2 separate regions of the Homo sapiens genome follow, and region 1 is linked to region 2. The links come from fine-mapping of genetic effects on gene expression. A gene starts in region 2. The other region holds a variant in brackets. All regions are shown on one strand. Distances are from middle to middle. Region 1 overlaps DRC7 (dynein regulatory complex subunit 7). Region 2 holds the start of DRC7 (dynein regulatory complex subunit 7).

Region 1 (2,910 bases), 23 kb before region 2:
GGCCAACGACATTCAGAGGAACTGACAGAACAGACAAGAAAGGCCTGGCAGCATGTGGGGCTCATGATGGCTACTTGGGATAGAACTGAGAACAGCCAGCTCTGGGACTCCCAGGGGGTTGCAGAGCGGGGTGTTATGACCCCGCTCTGCAACTTTCTTTTTCTAAATTTATTTTTATTTTTATTTTTTGTGGTGGGGTGGGGTTGCGCAGGCTGGAATGCAGTGGCATGAACATGGCTCACTGCAGCTTCGGCCTCCCAGTCTCAAGTGATCCTCCTGCCTCAGCCTCCCAAGTAGCTGGGACAACAGGTGCATGCCACCACAGCCAGCTAATTTTTAAATTTTCTTGTAGAGACAGGGTCCCACTATGTTGCCCAGGCTGGCAAGGGACATGCTTTCCAAAGGAGCAGGGCAACTCCTGAACAAGGTGGACGATATGGGGGGCAGAAGACCTGACGTCAAGTCCTGTCCCTTCCGTAACCCACTGGGAGGTCCTGGGTAGGTTTCTGGCCTTTCTGGGCCTCAATGTGCCCATCTGTAAAATAAGGGAATTGCTCAAGCCTTCCTGCTTTGAGGAACCCATCACTGGTCTACTTGGGCCATCCCCCACTGCCACACATATGCTGCTGGGGACACTTGTCAGGCTCCCTGAAGCCTTCACACACATTCCCTGGGCTCTCGAGCTGCTGAGACTCACCAGATTTTCCACATCATCCTCATCGTTTATCCCACTGTCGTCTTCTTCAGTCAAGGACAGCTGAGACTTATCAGTCCCCAGGAGCATGTACTCCCATCTCACAGGGTCACCCAGGTCAAAGATCAAGTCCTGTTGGGGATGAGGGCAGTCAACTGAGTGTACCCCACAGCCACCACGTCCCCACCTGATCCATGGGGAGTTGGGAGATGGCTACTCCGGGGCAGAGAAGGGACCTGGGCCCAGGGCTTGGGGAAGCAGAACGTCAGTCCCAGGTGGCTCTGAGAGTCCATGCCCACACTCCTCATCCCAACAGGGAAACTGAGGCCCCGAGGGGGAGCAGAACTCCCTGCCCATCATTCAGCCTCCCTGTGAGGAAATCTCGTGTTGACCTCTGTGAAAGACAAGGAGGCTCTCTGGCCTGGGCTAGACCTGGATGTGCAGGTCTTTCCGCATCGGCTGGGCAGTGCTTAGAGCCAATGAAAACAAACCAGCAAGATTTGATGGCAGAAGGGTCTAGCAACTCCCAGGAAGTGGAAGGTTTTTTAAAAAGGCTTCCTCCTGTTTATTTTACCCATGCCAGGAACAAGGGAAATAGGCAGGCACACGTGGAAGTTATACATAAGATGCAGGTGGAGAGCCGGGCATGGTGGCTCATGCCTGTAGTTCCAGCACTTTGGGAGGCCAACACAGAAGGATCACTTGAGCCCAGGAGTTCAAGACCAGCCTGGGTAGCAAAGGGAGATCCCATCTCCACAATTTCTTTTCTTTTTTTTTTTTGAGACAGAGTCTCACTCTGTCGCCCAGGCTGGAGTGCAGTGGCGTGATCTCGGCTCACTGCAACCTCTGCCTCCCAGGTTCAAGCGATTTTCCTGCCTCAGCCTCCTGAGTAGCTGGGATTACAGGCACATGCCACCATGCCTGGCTCATTTTTATATTTTTAGTAGAGATGGGGTTTCACCATTTTGGCCAGG[C/A]TGGTTTCGAACTCCTGACCTCAAGTGATACGCCTGCCTTGGCCTCCCAAAGTACTGGGATTACAGGCATGAGGCACCGTGCCTGGCCTTTTTTTTTTTTTTTAAGCCAGTGCATGGTGTTATGCACCTGTAGTTCTGACTACTTGGGAGGCTGAGGCAGGAGGATCACTTGATTCCAGGAAGTTGAGGCTGCAGCGAGCTGTGAACACACCACTGTACTCCAGCCTGGGAGACAGAGTAAGACCCTGTCTCTCCAAAAAAAAAAAAAAAACAGCAGGTGGGTGGGAATTTCTCCTCCATGGAGTGTGTCTGCCACCTTCTTTTATTTTTCTTTTCTTTTTTTTTTTGAGACAGGGTCTCCCTCTGTTGCCCAGGCTGGAGTGCAGTGGTATGATCTCGGCTCACTGCAACCTCTATCTCCCCGGTTCAAGTGATTCTCCTACCTCAGTCTCCTGAGTAGCTGGGACTACAAGTGCTCGCCACCACAGCCCAGCTAATTTTTGCATTTTTAGTAGAGACAGGGTTTCACCATGTTGGTCAGGCTGGTCTCAAACTCCTGACCTCTTTTCACCCAGCCCACCTGAGTCCTCAGTCCCCTCAATAAAAGTGGCTCATCTGTCAGATAATTCCTAGAAGGTGGGGAGCACCTCACATTCTAATCAACCTTCCTAGAGCAAGGTGTTCTCCCCACCCTAAATCATGTTCCAGAGGAAATCAGAGGCTGCAGAACAGCTGCCTGGAGGGGTGTTAATATTAAGCTGTCCTGAAGCCAACTCTAAGCCTAGTACTCACTGTCATGTGTGGGTCCTGGGAGGGCTCCTGAGTATTTCTCTGCCCTAGCTCGTGGGTGGAGGGGAGAGAAGTGGGGGGCACAGCAGAGGAGAGTTGGGGAGAGAACTGCTGGTAGATGTCACAGCGACTGTGGCAAAGCTTAATGGGCTTAGTGGATAGGAACCCAATTGTATAGATATTTGCCTTTTTTCACTCTTTTTTTTTTTTTTTCAGATGGAGTCTTGCTCTGTTGCCCAGGCTGGAGTGCAGTGGCATGATCTCGGCTCACTGCAACCTCTGCCTCCTGGGTTCAAGCGATTCTCATGCCTCAGCCTCCTGAGTAGCTGGGATTACAGGTGCCCGCCACCACACCCAGCTAATTTGTGTATTTTTAGTAGAGATAGGGTTTCACCATGTTGGCCAGGCTGGTCTTGAACTCCTGGCCTCAAGTGATCCACCTACCTCGGCCTC
Region 2 (2,910 bases):
TCTTTCCATTTCTGTCCTCGAACATCTGTTTTCCTTACGGCAAATGGGGGTCCAGAGATGAGGAAAACAAACGAAACCCACAGGACAAAGGGGGCGAGTAGTAAGGAAAAAAAGCAGAATCCCCTTGATTTTCTAATCATCCCCCACTTCCCTGGGTGAAGCCAGGAGCAAGAGGGCAGAAGGGAGCAGCAGATAAAGGCTGGCCCCAATTTCCAACTCCACACCCACATGGGCCACCTCGGCCTCCTAGGGAGGTGAGTCCCTGGCCACCAGCCACGACTGAGCCTGGTTGGGGAAACCCTGGCTTTGCCAGTAGCTCCTGCTGGACCCTTGGGTCACTGTCTGCGCCTTTCTGTGCCTTAGTTTCTCTTTATAGTAGGAAGGGAGGGCAGATATTTTCTGTCCAATTCTGACATTCTGTGCTCTGGGACTCAGGAGGGGACGAATGCTCATCTGGCTGGAAGCCACCCAAGGCCTAGGTAGCCCAACACCATTCAGGACCCCAGATCCTCAGGGGAGAACCTCTAGCCAAGCAGCACTTCTCAGTGATCAGATCCATTTGTTGGCCTCTTGGTCCCAGAGACAATGAGCCCAGGAAGGGCAGTCATCACCATTACAAGGCATTTACAGTTTGCTGAATGCCTACTGTGTGTCAGACCTGTGCTGAGGGTTGTACGGAGATCATCTCACTTATCCTCTACTGACTCTATGAGGCAGACACTGAGGACACCCACTTTGCAGATGAGAAGATTGGGGCCCAGAGAAGTTAAGTGCACTGCTTAAGGTACAGCCAGTAAGTAGCAGGTCTGGGATTTGAACCCCTGTATTTCTGGTTGTGAAACCTGTGTGTCTCAGGCTGGAAGAGATATGAGATGGGGAAGTGCTAGAAGGGATGGTGGGGGTGGGGGAGTGGTGGGCAAGGAAAGAAGTAGGCTGAAGAGGAAGCCGACGTGTCAGTCCCAGAACACCATCAGAGGCAGAGCTGGGGAGAAGAACCCACAGCACTTTATTCCCTACACAGGTGGCCTCTTCAGCTATAGCCCAGTGTGGGGAAGGCAGTCTTATCTCAAGGTTCCTTAGATTCTGCCCCAACCCACCGGCCCTTCCCTGCACCCCCTCTCCACCAGCAACTTCCTCCTCCCAACACACATAAACACGCACACACACCCCACCAACAACTTCCCCAGAAAGATCAGGGCTGGAGGCCCCCAGGCAGAAGGGGGCCACCAGCCTCACCCTTTCCCTGCCAGACAGGGTCCAGCCACCCCAAGTCCCTTGCTCCCTCCTCACCCCTCCGAGGACAGCCTGCTCTAGCTGTTAGCCATCTCCATGGTAACAACCTGGGAAGCTGAACGCCGGTCCTGGGAGAGGAGGCTTCTGGGAAATGTAGTCTTCCCAGGTTTCATGGGTCCTTCTGCCAGCGGTGCACTGGTATAGTGGGGCATCAACTTGATAGTTGTTAAACTTTCCAAAATTTTTGTGAAACACAGCCATTATTAAAAATTAAGAGGGCTGGGCACGGTGGCTCACACTTGTAATCCCAGCACTTTGGGAAGCCAGGGCGGGAGAATCCTTTGAGCCCATGAGTTCAAAACCAGCCTGGGCAATATATAGTGAGAACCTCTCTAAAAAAAAAAAAAAAAAAAATTGGCCATGGGGTTATTTACACCACAAAAATTAGCAAACGCCAAGACCAGGGCTTTTCCTCTGAGCCAGCCAGTTGTTAAACATTTACCAGCACAGCACAGCCCCTGCCCCACGGCATGCCGAATGTGGCCTTGATCGAGACAGACAGAAACCAGTGTGGGGCCTGGAGTAGCTGCCAGCTGCGGTGGACAGAACCAGGCTGCCTTGACTGAGTCCTGGGTTCTAGTCCAGGCCGGAGCTGTGATGTAGAACATTACCTCGAAGTACGGGGAAAACCTATCCATTAGGCTAGTGGCTCATGAAAATGTTTAATTTCTTTTAAATTCAGAAGAAAAAAATGAGAATAATAATGACTATATAAGTGTGAATCTGCCCTGAATTATATCTGTGTTTTTACCAATACAGTCCTAAAATATAATCTTCACTGTTTTATTTTTGGAGGGAGGGGTGCATGGGCCTTTTTTGGTCAGGGGATAGGGCTGCCAGGAGGGAATCCAGACTGTCACTGTGCTGACAAGTTTGCACAGTTAGTGTTACTGCTAGAAACTTAGGAATTGCCTCAATTCTCATGAATAGAGAATGATGTTCCCCCTCCCAGCTGGAATATCATGCAGCCATAAAAATAAGCTGTAAAGGATCAATTGCACTGTGGAGAGCTCACGAGACAGTGTGTGTAGTATTTCAGACTTGGTGCTAAAGGATCAATTGCACTGTGGAGAGCTCACGAGACAGTGTGTGTAGTATTTCAGACTTGGTGCTAAGCAACTCGTAATTACCTCTGTGGGGAACTGGCTGGGATGAAGGCAGGAAGGGAGGAGGGAGGAGAAAGGAAAACAGGTGATGCGTTATGCTAGTGGGATGCAGCATAGGCTTCATTGTCCTTTTTCAACCCTATGCAACACTTCATTCCTTTTACATATTTATTCATTCCTTTTTCTCTTCATACCCACTTTCATTTCCCACCTCTATAAAGTAACCATTCTGATGTGTATTTTTTTTTTCCAAAATGAGTATTGTTTGGCATGCTGGTGTTTTTAATATATGTTTAATATGAGACTGAACAAATATATCCTTCTGGTTCTTATATTTTCATGAAGGGCTGTGTTTTTAAGATCTCTCCACGTTATTGTGTGGATCCACACTTATTACCTCTTCGTCCTTCCAGTGACGGGCACTCGGTGTCCAGGTGTTCTAGAGGGAGCTTTCAATGTCCCCAGGCACTGATAGTTGTTTAGGTTGTTGCTGGAAACATGGAAAGATCAA

The links. PIP is the estimated chance that this variant, and not a neighbour inherited with it, causes the effect.
Region 1: its variant is fine-mapped to the expression of DRC7 in testis (GTEx, PIP above 0.99).

Annotation. Positions count from the first base shown.
Region 1 is chr16:57,716,263-57,719,172 of GRCh38, reverse strand. DRC7 (dynein regulatory complex subunit 7) reads right to left here. Exons shown (of 19, transcript NM_001289162.2): 9 at 698-826. Among named protein-coding and RNA genes, the nearest start is that of KATNB1, 18 kb to the left of the region's middle. The variant C/A (reference allele first, on the strand shown) is at 1,669.
Region 2 is chr16:57,693,233-57,696,142 of GRCh38, reverse strand. It overlaps DRC7 (dynein regulatory complex subunit 7), which reads right to left and starts at 1,337. Exons shown (of 19, transcript NM_001289162.2): 1 at 1,291-1,337.